Regions from separate parts of the Homo sapiens genome. Here regions 1, 2 and 3 are each linked to region 4. Evidence: fine-mapped expression QTL. A gene starts in region 4. Each other region holds a variant in brackets. All regions are shown on one strand. Distances are between the middles of the regions.

Region 1 (6,080 bases), 40 kb after region 4:
GGACAACATAGCAAGACCTTGTCACAATAAAAAATTTAGCTGGGTATGGTGGCACTTGCCTGTTGTCCTACTGGAGAGGGCTGAGGCGGGATGATTGCTTGAGCCTAGGGGTTTGAGATTACAGTGAGCTATGATTGCACTACTGCACTGCAGGCTGGGCAACAGAGCAAGACCCTGTCTCTTAAAAAAAAAAGGTTTAATTAAGGCCCTTCCTGATCTATCCTTCCAACCCTATCTTTAGCCCCCTCACCTCCTTGAACTTTAATCTCCAGTGGTATGCTGTCTCAGGGTTATGTCTTTAAATATAGCCTTCCCACTGCCTTCCCATTTGCCTTTATTCTTTCCACCTGTCAGTGGATTCATCTCCTCTGTGAAGCCTTCATTGTTTCTTTTTGACAGTAAATCACTGTCCTCTCTGTTAAGTAGGCATTTTATGCACATTTTTGTTATTGTGCATATTATAATTATTTATTTGAGTGTGTCTTCCCTACAGGTGAGGGCTTCTGGTCAGATCTTATTTATCATTTCTCCAGCAGCATTAAGCACATAGCAGGTACTCAGTAGAAGTTTGCTGTATGAATAAATCTCACTTCTATACTAAGTCCACATCCAAAGTGCTAGGACTTAAGGAAATGTGAATGGCTGTTAAGTATTTGTACTTAATACATTTGCAGTTTGTTTTACTGGAGTTAACATTCCTCTTGAGTGTTTATCATATTCCAGACATTATGCTAAGACGTGTGCTATATACACTATTTCAGTCAACTCCCACAGCTCCCAGGTCCTCAAAGGAAGAAACTGCAGGGAGAATCAGAACTCAGAAACAGGTCTGCTTGACCCAAAAGTTCTACTTTCGGCTCTACTAAACTGTTGCGCCTGTTCAGTAACTCAATATTGGTTCACAGATTGTACATAACCCATAGTATGTTGATAGTCCTGGAAGTCATTGGCTAATGGGGTTCACCTTCATTTAAGAGATACAGAAGGTACTCGGTTATTTCTTAATATTTTCATTTATAGTTCATCTACAGGAAAACATGTCATTGAAGCTCTTCCATAAGGCAAAGAAGTATTTTGTAATTAATAAGCATAATTTTCAAATCTAGGATTTTTTTTTTTTTTACCACCAGTGTACCATGGAATCTCTCTAGTCATATGTCTGTCAAAACTGTCACAGCCTATTCCCAAATGTATGTAGCTCTCTTTTCAAAGGCTTTAATTCAGTCATATAGTTTCTGTTTTTGTGGAGACTCATGTAGTTTTTATAGGGATCACACAAATGTACCATATTTTAATTTTTCATATGTTTTGTTATAGCTGTTTATAATGATATGAATGAGAGGCATAAATGTTAGTTGAGTTATTCCAGTGCTGAGTTTCAGTGGATTTCTTAATCTCAGCATTATTGACATTTTAGGCCAGGTAATTCTTTGTTTTTGGGGTCTGTTTTGTGCATTGTAAGATGTTTAGCAGCATCCCAGGCCTCTACTCACTATATACCAGTAATCTCACACTTTGTGACAACCAAAAATGTCTCCAGACATTGCTGAGTATCTCCTGGAAGGCAAAATTACCTTCATTTGGGAACCACTGGCTTAAAGGTACTTAGAGCCAACAAAAGTAGAATTAAAAAAAAATTTTTTTTTAAATCTAGTTACCTTTAAAAAAACAACTTTATTTATATATATCCATACCATATTATACAACAACTTCAAGTGTATATTCAATGGCTTTTGGTATATTGATAGAGTTTTGCAGCTATCACCACAATCTAGTTTTAGAACATTTATATGACCTCATAAAGAAACCCTTATTAGCAGTCATTCCCCATTTCTCCTTTCTATCCTCCCCAGCCCTAAGCATATTTGGTTATCTTTTTATGTTTAGGAATATACATCCTGCTTGCTTATTTTAAGTCAGATCATTATGTAAACCAAATCCTATTTTAGAGTGTGTTTATTGAAAGTTATTTGCAATGTTAGGAGACATATTTTTTGAGAGGACCTTAGACATTTTCTTAGGCAGATTCCAAGTTTAATCTGTAAAGGAAGTCAATCTAGGTAGGCTCAGTTAAGAATCATTTTAGTATTATTCAGAACAGAAAAAATCCCACTGCCCCCCATGGCAAGTTTTGTATCATAGAAATCAACAGCTTTTGTTTTTCCTGATCAGTTATATTAGAAAACCTTGTTCCCTAGGTTATATGCACAAAACATAATTAAGAAACACATGTACTTTGAACCTGCTGTATGATTATTATTAAATAGGTCAATTTCAGTTTATTGGTTGGTGAGTTTATTTATAGGTAGATAGATAAATAGTTTTGTTTTTCAAATTTGCGGATCTGTCTTACTTACAGAGTAATGTTACTTACTATTTACTATAAGAAAAAACCTTGCAAATCGTCTTTTCCAAAAGAAGAAATAAGGCACAGTTGGATTATTTTGTGTACACACACGCATCTGTTTTAAATTGTGTTCATTTCTGTCCCTATTCCTAAGCTAACAGCACCTTATTTTAATTACTGTAGCTACCTACATATCTTTATTCTACTATTCTGCTTTTTCAGACTTTTCTTAGCTGATTTTTCACATGTCAAATTAGCAGACTTTCATGGAAAAGTTTCGAATTAAATTTGTGATTGCATTCACTTCCTAGAATAATTTTGGAAGAATTGACACATTTAGTTTAATGATTCTTCCTATCCAAGAACATATATTTCTCTCTTTTGAGGTCTTGTTTTATATCCTTTATTAAATCTTCCTCAAGATCTTGCATATTACTAATTAGATTGATTTCTCAGATATTTGTGGTTATTGTTGCTATTATGAATGGAATTTTTTTTTTTTCTTTTTCAATTGTTTGTTGCTGATATGGTTGGGAACTGTTGCTTTTTTATGTTGCTCTTGTATTTGGCCATCTCGCTGATGTACAGATGTCATATTATAATAATTTGTTGATTTTTCTATAGTTTTCTAAGTAATATAATTATATCTTTTGTAAATCATGACAGTTTCGTTACTTCCTTTTAAGTCTTTATTTCTTATATAGATCTGTTATTTCTTGCCTTACTACATTGGCTTAGACCTTAAGGAAATGTACAGTATTAGAGGTGAGAGCAGTAATCACTTCTATTAGAAACTACAGTGAGATATCCAATTTTTTGTTTATTAAATGATTTTATACATTTTACTGAATTTCTCATGCTCCATGAGATGAAACAGCATTCTCCCATACTTCTGGTGGAAATGTAAATGAATGCAGCTCTTTATATATACTCCTGTAATTTTATAATCTAGATAGTCTTACAAATGTTTCATGTCCTTTGATTTAGTAATCTCACTTCTAGGACTATCCCTTGGAAATAATAAACAATATTTTAGTTCAAGTTGCTCATTACTTTATGTTACTTATAATAAGTATTTGGAAATAAATATCTAACAGTACAGTAATGGCTTTGTAAATTATGGTATATGATGAAATATTGCACAACTATTAAAATAATTTGTAATATTAATAACTTAGAAGTACTTATATTACTAAATAAGTAA[AAG/A]AGGATAATACAGAATTTTTATATAGTAAAGTTGTATCAGCATCAAAATACATTGAACAAAGATTAAAACAGAACTTAGATCATCACATCAAAATGATAATAGTGGTAATCTATGGGTAATTACTTTCTGGATGATTTCATTTCCTCATTCATAGTTTTCTATGGTGAGCATGCTTTGTTCTTAAAATCAGAAGAAAAAGAAACTTAAAGTGTATGTGTTTGTAATACTAAACTATTTATTTTCATCAAAATAGGTAGAAAGGGAGAAATCTTAGCCTATTCCCTAAATGGCAAGTTTAGTTATAATTTTTTTTTTTTTTTTTTTGAGACGGAGTCTTGCTCTGTCGCCCAGGCTGGAGTGCAGTGGTGAGATCTCCACTCACTGCAACCTCCGCCTCCCGGATCCAAGTGATTCTCTTGCCTCAGCCTACCAAGTAGCTGGGACTACAGGTGCCCGCCACCACACCCGGCTAATTTTTTTGTATTTTTAGTAGAGACAAGATTTCACCATATTGGCCAGGCTAGGACTAGTTGGTCTCAAACTCCTGACCTTGTGATCCACCTACCTCGGCCTCCCAAAGTGCTGCAATTACAGTCATGAGCCACCATGCTGGGCCTATAATTTTTTAGAGTTAATATTTTTATAATACTCTTTTCAAAAAAAAAACACCTTGCTGAATGTAGATAGCAAATGTCATAGGAGAAATCTGATACCTGAGAGAGTAGTACATAGTTTCAGAACCAAGGTTGAGAGTTATGCTCTGGGATCTGCTTCTAAATGATCTGACTGCCATATCAGTGAGTCAGGGAGGAAGTGTAGCAGATATCCACTTGATTTGGTTTCTTACTGTCTTGTCACCCATGTGCATGTGTATTGTAAACTAGCTGTCATTTAGCAGCCCTGTGATATACTGCTGGCCGAGTTTCGTAAGAAAGCTTCTATGTTTGTATAGATTTTAGATTATCATTCGCTTTATTTAAGAAACATTCATTAAGTACTTTCAGTGTGTCAGGAACCTTGGTAGCCAAAGGACAAATGACATAAAAACCACACAGATGGCCTCTTTCTTGAGCAGCTTTTGTTGGAAATAATTTATGACTAATATTATGATGGAGTGAGATGGTGTCTTACTAGTAAGACCAGAAATACTTAAATTCTAATTCAACCAATTCTTGAGATCCCTTAGGGAGCTAGGTATACCAAAATTCAAGTTAGAATTTGTTGGCTTAGGCATAGGCCCCTGCCTCACAATCCAGAGAACTAGGTTATTCTATATGGAATATGCCTTTTTCCTTTACCAGCTAAACCTGACTTTCCTTTCTACGTGTTAGCTTAAATTCAAGTCGTCTCAAATTTTACTACTCTACTAAGGCAAAAAACTACTGGTACTAAAAGAAAATGAGCAAGAAATGTCCAACAAGCTAGATCTTGTTGAATAGTTAGCAATTCAGATGTCTTACTACCTACCAACAAACTGTCCCCCTCCATTACCTTGGCCCAGTTTCTATATTTGGAAAAAAAAAAAAAAAAAAAAGCAGAACAAAAAAGGAATAAGAAAGATGGCTTGGCTGCTCCAAGCAGCCTTGGAATGTTTTACCTCTGGTAATGTGGAAGAAAAATAAAAGAACGGCCATCCTCAGTCTGTTTCACCATAATGTGTAGTTACAATACCAAGAAATTTTGAGTTATTAAAAAAATTATTTTACAAAGCAGTTTCATTGGTAAGAAGGATTAAAGACTAAAATCTGTAAGATGAATAGACTTTTGTCAGACCAAGGGAGATGGAGGTTTGGGGTGGGAGAATGTGTTGGATTCCAGCTATATTATTCAAATGCTCGGAGACACAGAACATTAGAGAAGACAGGAGTTCACTGTAGGTGATGGTGAGAGTGGGCATGGAGCAGGAGTGCCAAGAGATGAAGTTATAAAACTAAGCAGGAGTTAGATCATGAAGAACTTTATGTACTATGCTAAGAAATACTGACCTTATTGTGAATGTATGGAGGGCCCATTGGCTTTTTGGGGAGCTAGGTCTGCAATATGAATATTAGAAGGGGCAAAACTGGTGATAAGGGCTTGCACTAGTGTACAAGCAATAGGTATGGTGAAAATGGAGACATTTGAGATATTTTGAAGAGGTAGACTTAACAGGGACTTATGATCAACATAGATAATGTATATGGTGGAAAGAGAATAGCTTTTTGAGTTGGATAAGTGTGGGTTCAAATCCCAGCTCTGTCACTTTTCCATTTTAGGATCTTGGATGTTTTACATACCCCTGAGAACCTTAGTTTTCTCATCTTAATTGGGACAGTAAGCTGGGTGCCATGGCTTGTGCCTATAGTCCCAGCTACTTGGGAGGCTGAGGCAGGAGGATCACTTGAGGTCAGGAGTTTGAGTGTAGCGTGGGCAACATAGTGAGACATAATCTCTAAAAGAATTTTAAAAATTAACTAGGTGTGGTGGCATGCATCTGTAGTCCCAACTACTCAGGAGGCTGAGGCAGGAGGATTGCTTGAGTCCAAG
Region 2 (6,080 bases), 71 kb after region 4:
TTTTTCAAATTGGGGAAGTTTTTACCTATTTTTCAAATATTCTTTCTTTAAACACCTTGGAACTAATGAGTCTCTCAGCCTGTGCTGAAAGGTTCTGTGTGCATGTTGCAGCTTGCCTTCAGCACTCAGCCAGTCATTTGACATCTCTGCCTTAGCCTTCACTTTCTGCTTACCTAGAGCCTCAGGATTAGGCACAGATTAGTTAGGGCCTTCTCATGCTATTCTGAGCAGGCTCACAGCACTAAACGTGTGTGACCTTCTAAACATGTATGACCTTCTAGATTCCTGTGTATATGTCACAGGTTTTTAAAGCTCTTCTGAATCTCTTAGCTCTCAGCTAGCTTTTCCTTTAAAGCCTTTTGGTTAGTCTATTGTTTGTCCCAATTATTATCCCCTGTCTTGGGCATCCATGAAGTTAAAATACTTGCTTCTAATTGTTTTAGACAAACACATGCCCTGCCTTACATCTGGGAGAAGGCATTTCTCATGGGGCTACTTCACAGAGTCAGATTAAATATGACAGTTTTATAAGTGGAGTCTTCAGGGAATGATTATTTGGGAATTAGGCTTTGAAAGAGCCTCAGCTGTGTTCCACCCCCTCTAGTGGCTGCCAGATGGTGCCAAGAATTCAGGCTGTTATTTTTCAAGGCTGCCACAGAGGTGGGGAGTGGAAAATGAGACTAGTAAGTTAAAATACTACAAAGCTTGCTGTTCTTACAGAAATTCAGCCATTTTTCTTGAATAAACACTTCCATGGATTGCTGCAAGCCTTGATTAATTGCCAGAATCTGAAATGGTTGCTTTTGACAGTTTTTTTCCCATAGGTTTTTGTTGCTTTTATGGAAGAGCAAAGTTTTGGAGGTTCTTCACCATGGTCAGTGACATCATTTCTTGGTTTTGCTCTTGCCCCCTCTTTCTTTCTGAAGCATCATAAGGATTAGAATGATCCTTGTGTTGATGAGTTCTCTTTGTGACATGTTGAATGATGCTGTCTGTGGCACATCCAGGAAATGTCTAATTCACAGCTGAGTTTCGGAATCTGGATCTTGATGTAGTCATCTATTTATAGATGATAGTTAAAACAAAGTGGATTAAATAGCCTAAATAAAGCATTTATAATGAAATAACCAAAGAGCTTCTATATTTGAGTTGATAATTGCTACAGGAAAAAATGAAAAATCACTCATTATGCAGATTGGTGTCCCTATAAATTCATGGTCTCAAATCTCAACCAGTTTCTCAGAACTGCCTATCAATCTTAGTCGTCTTTGTCAGTTTTCTCATTAACTTAATTATTATCTAAACCTCCTTAAGTCTTCTTATATCCCTTGTCACTCCCCTTCAACCTCGCCTTACTCTCAGTTTTCTACTTAAAGAAAATTAAAGCATGACTTCTCTCAAATTATCATCTTTCCCCCCTTATTACAACCAGCCCTCCTTATATGTGGATTCCTCATCCTCAGATTCAGCCAACTAGAGATTGAAAATTTTTGAAAAAATAAAAACTGTAAAAAATAATACAAATTAAAAATAATATAACAACTATTTATATTAGTCATAAAAGTAATCTAGAGATGATTTAAAGTATATGGGAGGATGTGTGTAGGTTATATGCAAATACTGTATGCACCATTTTATATAAGAGACTTGAGCATCAAATGATTTGGGGATCTACGGGGTCCTGGGACCAATCCTAGTGTATACCAAGGGCAACTATCTACTTTTACCCCCAGGTAAATGATACTGGAAAATGTAGGGTACTCATGAAAAGACTTTAGATATTCTAGGCCGCGTAGGTAAGAAAGAGTGTAGGAGGGACTGATAGACTGGGAGTAAGGTAGGGGTGTTTCAGGAACTACATGGCTCTCAGTTTGAATAACTTGAGTCCTTACATTCAAAAATGATTACAGTTAACCCTTGAACAACACAGAGGTGAGGCAAGTCAACCCTCAAGCATTTGAAAATTTGCGTGTAACTTTTGACTCCCCTAAAACTTAACTACTAATAGCCTGCTGTTGACTAGAAGCCTTAATGATCATAGTCAATTAACACGTATTTTGCATGTTATATGTATAATAAACCAGATTCTTAAAGTAAACTAGAGAAAAGAAATCGTTAGGCCGGGTGCGGTGGCTCACGCCTGTAATCCCAGCACTATGGGAGGCCGAGGCAGGCGGATCATGAGGTCAGGAGATCGAGACCATCCTGGCTAACACGGTGAAACCCTGTCTAAAAAAAAATACAAAAATTAGCTGGGCACAGTGGCGGCCTGTAGTCCCAGCTATTCGGGAGGCTGAGGCAGGAGAATGGCAGGAACCTGAGGGGCAGAGCTTACAGTGAGCCGAGATCACGCCACTGCACTCCAGCCTGGGCGATGGAGCAAGACTCTGTCT[CA/C]AAAAAAAAAAAAAAAAAAACTGTTAAGAAAATCATAAGGAAGAAAGAATATATTTACTATTCATTATGTGGAAGTGGGTTTTCATAAAGGTCTTCATCTTTGTATTCAAATTACGTAGGAATTTGAGGAGGAAGAGAAAGGATCGGTCTTACGGTCTCTAAATGCCACACATTTAAAAATGTCCCTTTAGTGGGTTGAATTGTTTCTTCCAAAAAGATATGTTTAAATCCTAATCCTAGTATCTGTGAATGTGACCTTATTTGGAAATAGGGTCTTTGCAGATGAAATGAAGTTAAAATGAAGCCATACTGGATTAGGGTGGGCCCTAAACTCAATAGCTGATGTCCTTATAAGAGGAGAAGACACAGGGGAAAAGTCCAGGCAAAGACAAAGGCAGGGATTGAAGCAGTGCAGCTACAAACCAAGGAATGCCAAGGATTGCCAGCAGTCAGCAGAAGCTAGGGTGAGGCAAGAAAGGACTCTTCTCTAGAGTCCTTGGAGGGAGCAAGGCTGGGCTGAGATCTTAATTTTGGACTTCTGGCCTCCAGAACTGTGAGAAAATAAATTTATGTTGTTTTAAGCCACCCAGTTTGTGGTATTTTCTTATAGAAGCCCGAGGAAACTAATATATTACCTTAATTTGCTCTTGAAATTAATTTTAATTTATAAATATGGAGGTATATTATCAAATGACAAACTTAGAAATAGCATTAGTAATTTAAAAAGTATGTTTCATACATTGTCATAGCTTAGTTTTGAGAGTAGCAATTTGAAAAACAGATTATAGGCAGAACTCTGACAGTTAGATAACTGACTCTTGATAGGTGCTTCAGATACAGAAAGCTTAAAAGATCTGGTTTATTCCACTCATCCATTCCAATCTATCATTCCATTTGAAATCTCAGCAAATTTTTTCCAAGGGAAATTACTGTTAAGAATATTAAAATAGTAAGTAGTCGAATGTAGTTTCTGGAACATTGTATTTAAATCCTTTTAAAAGACTACATTTTCTTAATGTGATAAAGCATGGTATTCTCTTAGATAATCTAGGCAAAAGGAGCATTTTTTTTCCTATACTCAGTTTATTAAAAATTTCTTGGGATACATTGAGATTTTCATGAAGAAATGAAATTTGAAATTTGTTCTTGACGTACTTTGGATATTTGTAATGAAGATGTTTTACATATCTTGAGCCATATATTAGGTCAGCTATAATTTATTGGGCTTTAAATTTTTTATAAGGTTATATCATATGTAACTAGATTAGTTTTCTATTGCTGCCACAACAAATTACCACAAATTTAGCCGCTTAAAATAACACACACTTATTACCTCATAGTTTCTCTAGGTCAGGAGTTCAAGGGGCCTCAGCTGGGTGCTCTGCTCAGTTTCTCACAGAGCCAAAATCAAGGCTTTGGCAGGACTGCATTCCTTACTGAAGACCCTGGGGAGAAACCTGCTTCCAAAGTCGTTTGAATTGTCAGCTAAATTCAGTTCCTTTCTGTTGTAGAATGTAGGTCCTTGTTTCCTTGCCAGCTGGCAGTTGGGAGCCTCCAGTGTTTACACTTGGAGGCTGCCCACACTCCTTCTCATACTGTCCATGTGGCCCCCTCCAGCAACAGCAGGGCACGTTTCCCCTCACTATTCTAATCTCCCTGATTCTAGCTAAAGAAAGCTCTTCGCTTTTAAGAATTCATGTGATTACATTACGCACTACTGGATAATTCAGAATAATATCCCTATATTAAGCTCCATAACTTTAGTTAGATCTGCACAGTCCCTTTTACCATGTTACTTAATGTGGGAAACACACATTCGCCTGTCTGAACCCAAAGACTGCACTTGGAGACACAAAGAACAGCAAAAGCGAGACTTTTAATGGTGGTCTTGCAAGATGGGGCGTATGGTAGGCAGGCACACCCAGGGCAGTTACAGCAGTTAATTTACCTCCTAGCATGCAAATCCCTCCCCTAGTTCCTCATAGGTCGAGTATTACAGGGTTACAATCTTCCCGGACATCATCCAAGTTTCATTATCCCCCTAATAAGGGTGTAATCTTCCCTTCCCTGCTTAAGTTTCGATTTCCCAATAATGAAACTTTCTTCGCTTTTATGGGCTGACCCCTTCTCTACATTCTGTTTGCTCATTGTGACCTTCTAGGTGCGTGAGCCGTGCAGTTTGTTACATCCGCAGGCTGGTTGCCAGTATATTTAGATTTATCATGCCTTGAAAATAGATCATTTAAAACATTTTCTCACAAAGTCCCTCCTCTTTTCTGTTTACTTCCTTCGGTCTCATTTTCATCTAAATCCTTTTTGTCCTTGAATTGCTCTAGAAGTCTTTTACTTTCTCCATAGGAGATTGAGTTTAATTTTGTTTCTAATAGTACCAGGTTATTTTGCTGGTTAAGTCATGGGCATTTGTTTATTAATAGCTGTTTTAATCTCTGTGCTAGTCCCCCCACACAAGGGTTAATACAAAAATCCCACTGCTGTTAAGACTTCTGCCACAATTATGAGAGATGTAAGGATTGAGGGCTACCATGTCTTTCCATTTTCCAAACCAATCTTCTAGCCAACCCATAAATGGGTCATCAATTCCAGCATTTTCTGCCAGTTCATTGGCTAGAGTTGTTGGTCTTCGTAAAGCTTTTCTGATGGTCCCATCTGGGGCAGTATTGTTGGGAATGAAAGTACAACATTTCCCACCCAGCATAACACATACGCCCCCTTTTTCTGCTAGTATCATGTCTAGCGCAAGCCTGTTTTCCCAGGCCATTTGGCTGATGGCATTTAGCTGGCTAGCCACCCCTTTGAGGATGTCCCGAGTATAATCGATGAATCTCTGTTGATTATAATAGATGTAGTTAATCTAGTCCACATTCTTAATAGTTGACCACCAGAAGAGTGCTGACTTAAACCGAGCTGCTATTTGGTTTCGGGCCTTAAATTCATTAGGCACCCCCCCCCCCCCGGAACTCCTATAGAGTTAACATATATATTGGGATCAAAAGATACGTCAAATCTCTCCGGTTTTGGTAGCCGTGTGTATTTTCGGGTATCTTATGGAATACCAGGATGAAGGGAATGGCCAACTGGACTAAAGCACAAGTCCCAGTCCAATTGGACGGTAACAACTTATCATCCTTTTTTCCCACAGTACCACCAGACATCAGCCGTGGTGTATGGAGAGCTGAGTAATTGCCATTGCCTGACTCAACCTGTGATGCTTAGGATGTGGGTACAAGTTGAGAGTTCTCCCATGGGCTTATTGAACTCTGCCCCCTGCCTGGAGAGGCAAGAGGAGTAGTTCATATTCCCTGTAGAGAATGAGGGGTTCTGACCTCTCTCCACAATGCGGGAAAGAGCAATGACAGACTCTTACAAGTCTCATTTTCCCATGCATCCTTGTCTCGGTATAGAGCCAACATGCAACACATTACTTCAGGATCAGTATTCCATCCTAGGGGAAATGGAACCACCCATGCCTGAGGTCCTCCCGCAGCACATGCATAGTAGTTACTCTTGTTGAGGGCTTGTACCAAAAATGTGACCCACTCAACCCAGGCATTCACATCCCCATACCCTCAGTTTTTAAGGTTTGCTTTACATCCTTTACCTCAATTATTTTTAGCCTTTTAGGATCATTATTTGGTGGACTAAAGTGTTTACTAGGGCCTGGGCTT
Region 3 (6,080 bases), 86 kb after region 4:
ATTCTTTTTCTCTATAGCACAGAAAACAGATAGTTAACTGATGATAGGGATAATACTGTATTTCCTTAGCTTGATTTTTGGAAAATCAACCGAAAATAGTTTGGCCGTCTTTTCTAAATGTTAGAAATTCTTCAACAGTTGAATTAGGTAAGTTCCAAAACAGTAATCTGAGATGCATCTCAGATCTTTATTACCACTACATTATAGTAGTGTGTATGCAGACAATCAGTGAAGTCCAATTACTTTCTCCATTTGGAGACACAAGAGGAACATAGAGTTAAATCTTAGGTTAAATTTTAGGTTGACACCTTAGGAAAATGCTGGGAAAAAAATGGTTAAAACAAAACTCATCATAGCTTCAGAAAAATAAAATGAGGCATCTTAACATGCAATGTTCTAAAGTTAGGATTGATTATATTCCTAACCCTAGGTTGAACCACAAAATTTCATTTAAAATGTTTATATTTGGAAATATTTGCATAGAGTGTAAATTGTTCTGTAGTTTCATATTTTGTAAATATGAGTTATGTTGACAATGTGCAGAATTCTTTATGCTTTGATGTGGTAGCCAAAGAAAGAATTACACTTTTTTCCAAGGCCAGCAGAAAATTCTCTTTTAACTACATTGTAATTCTTGTTTTCCTCTACTAAAAATTGGCCAGTCCCATTTTATTTCTAGTGCTATGTAAGAAGGTAATTAGGAATTATAACACAGTAATGTTTTTATGTTACATCAATAACTGAATTTTCCCTAAAAATTAGCCTAATATATAATAGATATATTATGAAGCAAAACTTTTATTTTTGAAAAGGCAGAATAATTTTCAGTGAAGTAAGTGACTAAAGAAAAAAACTATATTATTGTTTATGCAAGGGTCTTACAGGAAAGGGTCTTTTTTTTTTTTTTTTTGAGATGGAGTCTCGCTCTCTTGCCCAGGCTGGAGTGCAATGGCACGATCTCAGCTTACTGCAACCGCCGCCTCCCAGGTTCAAGCGATTCTCCTGTCTTAGCCTCCTGAGTAGCTGGGATTAACAGGCGCCTGCCACCATGCCTGGCTAATTTTTGTATTTTTAGTAGAGACAGGGTTTCGCCATGTTGGCCAGGCTGGTTTCAAACTCCTGACCTCAGGTGATCTGCCCACCTCGGCCTCCCAGAGTGCTGGGATTACAGGCATGAGCCACCATGCCCGGCTAGGAAAGGGTCTTACTAGGAAAGATGGCCAAAAGTTTCATATGAAAAAAATTGGATTATAAACCAGTAACTTAAATATTAATAAGGATATTTTATGTTTTAAAAAAGTATTTACACAGAATCATAATCAGTGAAATTGACCATTTGAAAACTAAAAGTTTTTACCTACCTGCTCAATTTATTAACATCATTGCTTTGGGGACTGTTTGAATATAGGTACGTGTTTTCTTGTGCATTCTCTATAATTTCAGGAAAAGTACTAATGCGAATTCTCTTCCAAAATTGTGATGTTTCTTGTATTTTTGATGAAGGAGAAATACTGTAATGATCACTGTTTACACTATGTACACTTTAGGCCAGCCCTTTGTAGCGTTATATAAAACTGAAGGTCTTTTGTGCTTTCAGTTTGTATAAAAAAGCTTTGAGATTAAAGGAAAAAAAAAATTTTTACACTGTGGTTATAAATTTCAAGTTTCTTAAAGCTTTTGTAGACTTGTAACAGAGTCTTTAAATTTAAGTTGGATTTTGTAAATTGTTTTGTATATTTTATTTAATGTACTCTTAACAACTGATGTATCTGGCTTTAAAACATCAGAATTGGTTTGTTGTTTTGTTTGGTACAGAGGAGCATTTGGTAGTGTTCATTTTAATTTTATTATATAGGAGCTGAAACATCAAATATATATTTTATCTATCATTATGCTACACAATCAGTGCTATAAATTTTTTTATGCAAAGAAACTTTCTTAATGTTTTAATCATGTTTCCTCAGAGTGACACTTTTTGTTGTTGTTAATACCAAGTATGAACACTCTGCATCATTATTCCATGAACCAGTTCTAATGCAAACCTATGTATGTCCATTAGAAATGGAAGTTATTTTTTAATCAACAATGAGGCCTATTATAAATTTATCAGATGAATCTAGATAGCTTTATAGCATATAAAATATGTTAATTTGTGTTAGCAGGTGCACATTTCACCACTGAAATTAGAAATATTTTGACAGTCTGTTCTGCATACCATTCTGAGTCTACTTTTCTGTCTTTAGAAGAATCGTAAATTTCAGTGTCCTTTATTTGACTCAGTGGGATATAGCTGTTATAAGTAATAGGGCACAGATGTGCAGTAGAGTCTTGTTTAATGGCATTTCACTGTTCATTCCCTTTACCACCGTTATAAAACTTTTCTTTATTGTAATTATCAGTGCAAAGCTATGTATTTATCATGGTAAAACTCCAGTGTTAGAATAGTTTTTTCTTACAGTATACTTTCTTTGGTTAGGTTTGTGTATGTGTTGCTGATTACATTAGAACTTGATGTTAAGTCATTTATCACACTCTCATGAGAGCAGTAATAAAAGTGTGTAATCTAGGAGAAAAAGTTAATTTGTCAAACTTAGATAAGCATGATGTTTAGGTCCTATTTTTCAATTTTATAACTGTTTTATTGCAACAATATTTGTATTTAAGTCTCCATTTTAATGCCTTGTGGTGTTTTTTTATGCATGTCACTAAGTTGTCATCCCACATAAATTGATGTGCAGCATAGGGTATTAAATCTACATAATGATTTTAAAACAGAAATAGTTGATGGTAAAATGTAAATGTTTTGCAAAAATTCCTTATAAAAAGTTTTGTAGTAACATTTCACTTGTAAATTTTTTTTG[T/TAAA]AAAAAAAAAAAAATGAAAAAAAAAGATGAATCCAGAAAAAAACCTGTTTCCCATATTCTAGAATTTAGACAATTATTCTGCCAGCAAAGCCTCTGGGGCTGTAATTGACATTTTTACAGTGCTGATTTGTATAAAATTTGTTTTTTGTGGATTTGGAAATAAAATCATGTACAAGTTGTTGCCTGCAATAACAATTGCAAGTAACCTATTAAAAATTCCCTTGAGTTTAACATGTTTCATTTAATTATGTATACTATAAAGCAGCAATAAATTATTTGAACTATCAACCTACTTATCATGAACACTGGAGAGTTAAATGCTTCTCACTGGAGAACACATTGGCCACCGTTCGTAATTCCTCGTATTGAGATCTGGTCACCATTTCTCTGAACATACCGCCAAAGAACTCCAATTCAAATTGCATGTTAATTTGTAGCCATTGCTCTAGACATTTATGGAAATTAAAATTTGATTTAGAGACACTTTTTACTTAAATATTTTAAGCAATCAATGTTAGGAAATTATAGGAAGACCTGAAAACGAAAAACATAATTAAAATATTATTTAAGCTCACAGAATCACTGAGAAGCAATATAGGCCACATAGATGCCACAAAGACTACAAGCAGAAACTGTCTTCCTCCTGGGAGAGCCCTGCAAATCTCATGAAGACCTTTAGTAACATAATGAATACATTATTGTAACAACTTCAGCTAACACATTTCCAGACTCACACCAGATATAGACATAGCAAAGCGAGGGTTTGGCCCAGGGTGGCGGAGGTAGGATGTTAGGCAGCAAGAGAAGTACGCTGGCCCACTGACAGAAGACTCCAAAGACTCTAGGTTTTAGGTAGTAAGCAGGGGCTACAAGGTGTTTGGACAGAGAACCTTGTACAGCAAGGTCCTAAAGGCATAGTTGTGTTACAACTTTGTAAAATAATGTGTTCATAACACTGACTGAATCAAAGAATTTATGCTACTCTGTCAAATAAGACAGTAAGGAATTGTCAAAGGATGTTTTCTATCCAAAGTAAAGATACACTTCAATTACCTGAAAAATTCGCATTAGAAAGCATCAGGATGATATCGTATAAAAGGGGATAATGCAGGCCAGGCGAGGTGGCTCACGCCTGTAACCCCGGAGCTTTGGGAGGCTGAGGTGGGTGGATCACGAGGTCAGGAGTTCAAGACCAGCCTGGCCAACATGGTGAAACCCCATCTCTACTAAAAATACAAAAATTAGCCGGGCGTGGTGGCGTGCGCCTGTAGTCCCAGCTACTCGGGAGGCTGAGGCAGAATTGCTTGAACCCAGGAGGTGGAGTTTGCAGTGAGCTGAGATCACGCCACTGCACTCCAGCCTCGGCAACAGAGCGAGTCTCTTGTCTCAAAAAAAAGGATAATGCAATTAGAAAATGTCATTGTGTTTTTCAATTTTTAATATAGTTTGCTTCTTGTACTTCTAGAAATTTCAGCCACATGAAAAAGACAATAATAAAGAAAAAGGGATAAATCACCTTGAAAATTGACAAAAGCTGTTGGTGTAGTAAGTTAGGAAAGCTGAAGCAGTGCTAAAAGCAATACTAATAGGGTGTGGTTTACAATGCCATTGGTAATGACAACTTGAAAATAGAAAAATATACAGTATTGTTTATTTTTTAATTAAAAGTTCAGATGCTTAATTTCAGGGGTGCAGAGACTTCAAGTGTCACAGCAAACTTGAAATACTTTATTCCTTTGTGAAACTGAATAATATATTGCTATATTTACTGCCTGAACAGTAATGTCTGCTTAATATACACACAACCAACTTGTAATTCGGTAGCAGGACTTTTAAGGCATGTATTTTCCATTCTTTTAAGATTGGCTGATTAGCATAAACCTTGGGCTCTGTTCCTCTTAGTAACAGGTGGCAATGAAATAATTTATTTTTGGATACCTGAGAGTAATGTCAAGCAGAAATAGTGGAAGGAAGGAAGAGAGAAAGGAAAGGAAAAGGAGCATAAAGGCCTATTTATAATGCAGTGGGTTGATCTCCCTGGTTAATAGCTAAGCACCGTGCCAAAAGAGATCAACGGAGAGTCTGAGGATTTCAGGCTGGATTCCTGGTTCAGCCACTTAGTAGGCACACAACCGTGGGCAAGTTATTGAACTTTTAAGCACTTATTTTTTTCTACTTCATAGAATAAAAGAGCAATGCTTATTAATGTTAAGCATTATGAATAATACATAGGTCTGTTAAGATCAAACAAGAAAACTATATTGAGTAACACATAGTTGTGTTTAATACGTTATTATTGTTAATTATAAGTTAACCCAAAAGGCAGACGGGTGTCTTAGTCCATTCGGGCTGCTATAACAAGATAAACTAGACTAGGTAGCTTATAAACAACAGAAATTTATTTCTCACTTCGGAGCTAGGAAGTCCAAGGTCAAGATTCTGGCAGATTCAGTGTTCATTTACTGGTTCATAGATGGTGACTTCTAGCTGTGTCTTCACATGGTGAAAGGGACAAGACAACTTTCTGGGGCCTCTTTTGTAATGACGCTAATCCCATTCATGAGAGCTCTACTGTCATGATCTAATCATTTTTCAAAGGTTCCACCTCTTAATATCACTGGTAATATTATTGGTAATTGGGTTTCAACATGAATTTTTGGGGGGCACAACTGCTCAGACCATAGCAGGGGGCATGGAATAGTTCCCACCTGGACCAATGCTGAAATGTCTTGAAAATGGGCAACAATACATCAAAAAGTTAATTCTCAAATCCCATTTTAAAAATGAAATTTCAGTGGGAATTTCCAAATTCAAACATATTTTTCTCAAACTGTGAGCTACTTTGCCATACTCTACCTCAAAATTTTATGACAGTCTTTTTCCAATTCTAAGAAAAATAAAAGGTTTAAATCTTAGTTACTTTCTTCCCCCCCCCCCCTTGAGCCAAGGTCTCACTCTGTCACCCAGGCACACACCACCATGCCCAGCTGGTCCTGGGCTCAAGCGATCCGCCTGCCTCCACCTCCCAAAGTGCTGGAATTACGAGCATGAGCCACTGCGCCTGGCCTAATTCCTAATTTTTAAATGTTAATTACAATTACTGTTTGCCTACCTCAAAGTGATAACAGACAAGCACACCGGTGAACAAGAAGCAAACCAATTACTGAAAAACAGAAACAGCTGCTCATGTGTTGTTCACTAACTTTTGTGGGTTTATGT
Region 4 (6,080 bases):
AATCCTAATTATCTCCCAGAGACCCTACCTTCTAATTTCTAATACCATCACACTAAGGGGTAGAATTTTTCCTTCCTTCCTTCCTCCCTCCCTTTCCCCTCTCTCCCTTTTTTTTTCTTTCTTTTTTTTTTTTTTTTTTTTGACACAGTCCCACTCTGTTGCCCAGGTTGGAGTGCACTGGTGCCATCTTGGCCCAATGCAACCTCCGCCTTCTGGGCTCAAGTGATCCTCCCGCCTCAGCCTCACAAGAAGCTGGGACTACAGGACAGCGCCACCACGTCGGCTAATTTTTGTAGAGCCTGGGTTTCACCATGTTGCCTAAACTGGTCTGGAACTGCTGGGCTCAAGTGATCCGCCCGCCTTGGCCTCCCAAAGAGCTGGGATAACAGGAGTGAGCCGCGCCCCGTGTAGAATTTCAACACATGAATGGGGAAGGGGGCAGAGAACACAAACATTCAGTCCATAACAGCCAGGGACTAGAAGACTTTGGTCCACCATAAAAAGCAGGACTTATGTTTCATGGATACCAGTATTCCCACTTATCTATAGGGTGGAGAATATTTAGGACTTTGCAGATTCATACTGATGGTAAGCATTATTATTATTATTATATATTTTTTGAGACGGAGTCTTGCACTGTCGCCCGGGGTTGGAGTGCAATGGCGTGATCTCAGCTCACTGCAACCTCCACCTCCCGGGTTCACGCGATTCTCCTGCCTCAGCCTCGCGAGTAGCTGGGATTACAGGCGCACACCACCACACCTGGCTAATTTTTTGTATTTTTAGTAGAGACAAGGTTTCACTATGTTGGCCAGACTGGTCGCAAACTCCTGACCCCCTGATCCACCCGCCTCGGCCTCCCGAAGCATTATTTTTAATCTATGGTTCAGAGTCAGTGACATTGCCTCTCTGAAGCAGGTTTTCCAAACGAAAACGACAATGAAAGCCCCAATTCATAAGACTGCAAAATGTCTTCATTTATCTTGGTGAACTGGGAGGAGGAGGGGACCTGAGGATAGAGACAGTATATACGTAAATGTAAGAAGCACTTTTGAGCTTTCTATATTGTACACGATGGGGAAAAAGCACGTTGTTCAGGGATCTCTGGCTCATTGTATAAGATGGGGTAGACAATACCATGTAATTCTTTATTCGAATTGCTTTGTCTTGCTGCATGGCTTTGTCATCAGCTGATTTTGCAATTACCTTAACAAGCAAAGGAAATGCCAGTCAAGTTCAGCATCTGGGACCTCCTCACCATTGCAACATGTCAGGCCTCAGGCAGGAGACAAAAATGCCCAAGGCTGAGTGTGAAGCCCAGGTAAGAAGTGAGACAATGGCTTTGAGCCTGGGGTGTAAGCATGCCTTGTTCCCAAGGCCAGTATTTACATGTGGGGTCACTTCCACCTTTGGTACAGTTAATCAGGCGCTGATTACGTTCCATGGCATCATCCTGACTTCAGGACTTTGTAGGAAAGCTGAGGCAGGACACTGCTCAAGTGCATTTGACAGTAAGATGCTTTGTGCAGCCAGATGTTAATTCCACTTGCCCTTACGCTTGCTTACGCTACACCGTAAGCGGGGCTGACCCTTATGGAGCTGGGCTTTTCTTCGCCCGGAGACTCTTGTCAGATAAGGCTTAGAACTCCGCCAACCACTTAGGCTTTTAGGCAAAACGCGATGCAACCCTTCTTAGAAGGCGGGTCACTGCTCTGCACCAGCTGCCAGCCAGAGAGACAACAAATAAAAATGGAAGATCCTTCTCCGTGAGAAAACAGGCCTCGGACTCAAAGCAGGGGGCCTGAGGGGAAGGTGAGCAAAGAAAGGCAAGGCGAGGGCGCTGCTTCAAGAAGCCGGGTTCATTCAAACCCCGAGGACAGCAAACCCCGCCTCCCCACGCCGCCGCCCGCTCAATCGCCGAGCGCTCCGGGTGTGAGCTCGCCCCGCGGGGAGCGGCTTGGAGCCGAGGAGGCGGCGGCAGAGGTGGTTTGGGCAGCCCCGCGCGGCGGATAGGCCCAGGCAAACAACACCCATTCCCCCTCCTCCTCGCTCAGTTCAACTCCCACTCGGCCCCGGCCACGCCCTGCCGCCACCGCCCCCTCGGGCAGCTTTCCGCTCGGCAGCCAGGCCTCGGTCGGGGGCGGGAGAGAGGCGGTGCCTCGAAGAAGGCACCGCGACCGCCGGAAACTACGAGTACCGACAGCCTTCGCGGTAGTGCCCCACCCCCTTTCTCCCACCACTCAGCGCGCGTCACCCTGGGCTCAGCCAATGGAGACAGAGCCAGGGAAAAAGGGCGCCCGGGTCCGGATGCGCCTCAGGAAAGCCATGCTCCCTGCGCGGGGGCAGCGGGCAGTTCACCCAGCGCGCCGACCTGTTGGTGGTCCGCGCGCGCCCACGTCCGCCGCTCTCGCTTGCCTGGATCAAGGGCCCTACTTTTTTCTTTAGTGGCAATTGGAGGGATTGCTGGAGGGGGTTTTTGAGTGGAGGGCGCTGGGAAATGAGTAGGGGGCGGGATATCCTGAGACAACAAGTTTGGCTGTATGGAGGGCCTACCGGCAGCGCTCCTGAGCTAGAACGCCGAGAGAAAGAGCGCCAGAGGAGCCAGGGAGGAGGAGAAGAGCTGCTAAAGGAATAACCCCGAGAAAGGGGGTGGAGAGGAGGCGGCCCCAGCGCCCCGGCCCCCGGCAGGTCGGCGGCCAATCCGCTGGGGGAAGGGGTGGAGAGTCGGAGGCTCCGGCGGAGAGAGGCCGAGGGGGGTGGGGAGTCGGCCAGGCTCGCACCGCCCTGGCCCCGCCCCCGACCCGCGCCGCCGCCCGCGCCGCGCGCCGCCGCTGTCAATCAAGGGCGAGTCAGCCGGGCTCGGGCGGAGAGAGGAGCTGCTACGCCACAGCCCAGCGGCGGCCATTCGCGGAAAAAGAGGCAGAGCCTGTGCCAGCTACAGCCTCCTCCGAGCCACCGCGGGCGGGCGGGACCGGCCTCTCCTCCCGCCTCGCCCCCACCCCCACCCACCTCTATCCCAGTGTCTCCGTCTGAGGGTTTGTCCTGTTAATGCGGGATGAGCGGTACGTATTCTCCACCCCCCTCAGTCTCCTTCGCCGCCTCCCTCTCTCCCTCCCTCCCCAGACCCTGCTCGGTTCTCCCCCCTCCCCCGGGGCCGCTGAGATGCTTTAAGGGGAGGAGGAGAGGGCGGGAGGGAATCGGGGAGGGAAGGAGGGTTGTGTTTTGTCTTAATGTCTGAGAGAGAACAACCTCCTTCTGGGTGTTGCTCTGGAGCCGATGGGTCGGGTTTCAAACCACGTTTTGTGATATCCCCCTCCTCCCTTCCCTCCTTCTCCCCCACCCCCTGCCGGTGTGCGTGGATCGCGGGTTTATGGAGATTAATGTTCGGGGGGAGGGGGGAGAAGAGGAGAGGAAGAAGACGAATAATAATAATCCTAATAACCTGTTGTCGTGTGTGTGTGGTGGGGGGGTTTGTTGCAGATCAGAAGAAGGAGGAGGAGGAGGAGGCGGCAGCGGCAGCGGCGATGGCTACAGAAGGAGGGAAAACCTCTGAGCCAGAGAATAACAATAAAAAACCCAAAACCTCAGGCTCCCAGGTAAAAGCAAACAAATTAAAAAAATTCATCACGACACATTAGGAGAGAGAGGGAGTTATGCCCTTTGAATGTCCAGAAGTAACAGAATAAAATGTTTATCCACTCAAAGCATCTTTCTGAGAGTGTGGAACTTAAATTGTAAATTCATCAAGTTTTCACCTCTTTGAGGGTATAACGCTGTTTAAAATTACATCAGGAATTCAGACTATAAGAAAACGGTGTGTGTGTTCCCAAGGGCATTTTGAGTTTAGGAACATAACACTTTACAAAGTTGTAAAGAAATTTCCTTTTATTTAAACTTGATATTATAGGACTTGCTTCCTTATTCATATAGTTCTTATCTACTTTTGTTCGTATTTCTTTTTGATTTCTGCTGCTTCCTAAATTGTTATGTAGAGCTGTCAAAATAAGTAACCCCCTGGCAACTACTGGCCTCCACTAAATCCGCCCACTTTTTTTCCCCCCCCCCTCTCCTTTACCGTCCCATTTTGGGTAGGACTCTCAGCCCTCTCCTCTGGCTTTACTGGCAGCTACTTGCAGCAAAATAGGGACTCCTGGTGAAAATCAAGCAACTGGACAACAACAAATTATTATAGATCCAAGTCAAGGATTGGTGCAACTTCAAAATCAACCACAACAGCTAGAACTGGTAACAACGCAACTTGCTGGAAACGCTTGGCAACTTGTTGCCTCCACTCCTCCTGCTTCAAAAGAGAATAACGTTTCTCAACCAGCCTCTAGTTCGTCTAGTTCTTCCAGCAGTAATAACGGGAGTGCATCTCCTACAAAAACTAAATCAGGTAATTCTTCCACCCCTGGTCAATTTCAAGTCATACAAGTACAAAATCCAAGTGGTAGTGTACAGTACCAAGTAATTCCACAACTTCAGACAGTGGAAGGTCAACAAATTCAAATCAATCCAACTAGTAGTTCATCTCTACAGGATTTGCAGGGTCAAATTCAGCTCATTTCTGCAGGTAATAATCAAGCTATACTCACAGCTGCTAACAGGACAGCTTCTGGGAATATTCTTGCTCAAAACCTGGCAAATCAGACAGTTCCGGTCCAAATTAGACCTGGTGTTTCAATACCACTGCAGTTACAGACTCTTCCTGGTACTCAGGCTCAAGTTGTAACAACCCTACCAATTAACATTGGAGGAGTGACTCTAGCTTTGCCAGTGATAAACAACGTGGCTGCCGGAGGAGGGACTGGGCAGGTTGGCCAGCCTGCTGCTACTGCTGATAGTGGGACTTCCAATGGGAATCAATTAGTTTCCACACCCACCAACACCACTACTTCTGCCAGTACTATGCCAGAATCTCCCTCCTCCTCCACTACCTGCACAACCACTGCTTCAACGTCTTTGACAAGCAGTGACACATTAGTGAGCTCAGCAGATACTGGCCAGTATGCAAGCACATCAGCCAGTAGTTCTGAACGCACCATTGAAGAATCTCAAACACCTGCTGCTACTGAGTCTGAAGCCCAGAGCTCCAGTCAGCTTCAGCCTAATGGAATGCAGAATGCACAGGATCAATCAAATTCTCTTCAGCAGGTGCAAATTGTAGGCCAACCTATCTTACAGCAGATCCAGATCCAACAGCCTCAGCAACAGATCATTCAGGCTATTCCACCACAGTCGTTTCAACTCCAGTCAGGGCAGACGATTCAGACCATCCAGCAGCAGCCTTTACAGAATGTTCAACTTCAAGCAGTAAATCCGACTCAGGTGCTTATCAGGGCTCCAACTTTAACACCTTCAGGGCAAATCAGTTGGCAAACTGTACAGGTTCAGAATATTCAGAGTCTTTCAAATTTGCAAGTTCAGAATGCTGGGTTATCCCAACAATTAACCATCACCCCAGTGTCTTCAAGTGGTGGCACAACTCTTGCTCAGATTGCTCCTGTGGCTGTTGCTGGTGCCCCAATAACTTTGAATACTGCCCAGCTTGCATCAGTGCCTAACCTTCAGACAGTGAGCGTTGCCAACCTGGGTGCTGCAGGTGTTCAAGTGCAGGGAGTTCCCGTTACAATCACTAGTGTTGCAGGTAAGTTCTGACATCTTTTTAAGTACCTTTTAAATAGTTTTTCATAACAATTATTGCTTTTCTCTCCTAATTCTAAGGTTTGACGTAGACCTCTGAAGTAAACACACAATCATAAGGAACCAGAAATAGCAATATTATACTAACAAACATAGCTCTGTAGTAATCAATGTGACATGTTCACTTTTGTAGATTTTATAATAATGTGTTAAATTTGTTAGTTTTTTAAAAAGTATTGTTTTATGGGACAGAGCTTTCTGATTAGAATCATAATTGCCTTCTGTAATTTAGTGGTCTTATTTGAGTACATTCCAGCTCTTCAGAAAGAACCCTAGTCGAAATGATATTTATCTCTTCTTTGAGGGAAAGTAGTTTTAAACTGAATTGGTATATATAATTGTGAGTCTGTTGAACTTTTAATTCTGTGGTGTAATAA

Which allele goes with the higher level. Positions count from the first base shown, and alleles are read on the strand shown. Sizes are in standard deviations (SD) of each study's normalised expression. Not every link is listed here.
In carriers of allele A in region 1, the expression in CD8 T cells of the gene that starts at base 2,887 in region 4 tends to be lower than with AAG alone (small effect, 0.29 SD a copy in CEDAR).
With allele CA in place of C in region 2, the expression in prefrontal cortex of the gene that starts at base 2,887 in region 4 is lower (moderate effect, 0.45 SD a copy in ROSMAP).

Evidence for each region.
Region 1: its variant is fine-mapped to the expression of SP4 in CD8 T cells (CEDAR, PIP 0.90).
Region 2: its variant is fine-mapped to the expression of SP4 in prefrontal cortex (ROSMAP, PIP 0.95).
Region 3: its variant is fine-mapped to the expression of SP4 in whole blood (INTERVAL, PIP above 0.99).

Annotation. Positions count from the first base shown.
Region 1 is chr7:21,465,682-21,471,761 of GRCh38, forward strand. The region is part of intron 3 of SP4 (Sp4 transcription factor); the gene reads left to right. MIR1183 (microRNA 1183) reads left to right here and starts at 5,377; the gene lies at 5,377-5,465. The variant AAG/A (reference allele first, on the strand shown) is at 3,552.
Region 2 is chr7:21,496,686-21,502,765 of GRCh38, forward strand. All of the region lies in intron 5 of SP4 (Sp4 transcription factor), which reads left to right. Among named protein-coding and RNA genes, the nearest start is that of MIR1183, 29 kb to the left of the region's middle. The variant CA/C (reference allele first, on the strand shown) is at 2,394.
Region 3 is chr7:21,511,670-21,517,749 of GRCh38, forward strand. It overlaps SP4 (Sp4 transcription factor), which reads left to right. Exons shown (of 6, transcript NM_003112.5): 6 at 1-3,153. Among named protein-coding and RNA genes, the nearest start is that of DNAH11, 28 kb to the right of the region's middle. The variant T/TAAA (reference allele first, on the strand shown) is at 2,862.
Region 4 is chr7:21,425,197-21,431,276 of GRCh38, forward strand. It overlaps SP4 (Sp4 transcription factor), which reads left to right and starts at 2,887. Exons shown (of 6, transcript NM_003112.5): 1 at 2,887-3,062; 2 at 3,481-3,596; 3 at 4,093-5,647. The coding sequence starts at 3,056. RefSeq lists silencers at 1,821-2,210, 2,591-3,180.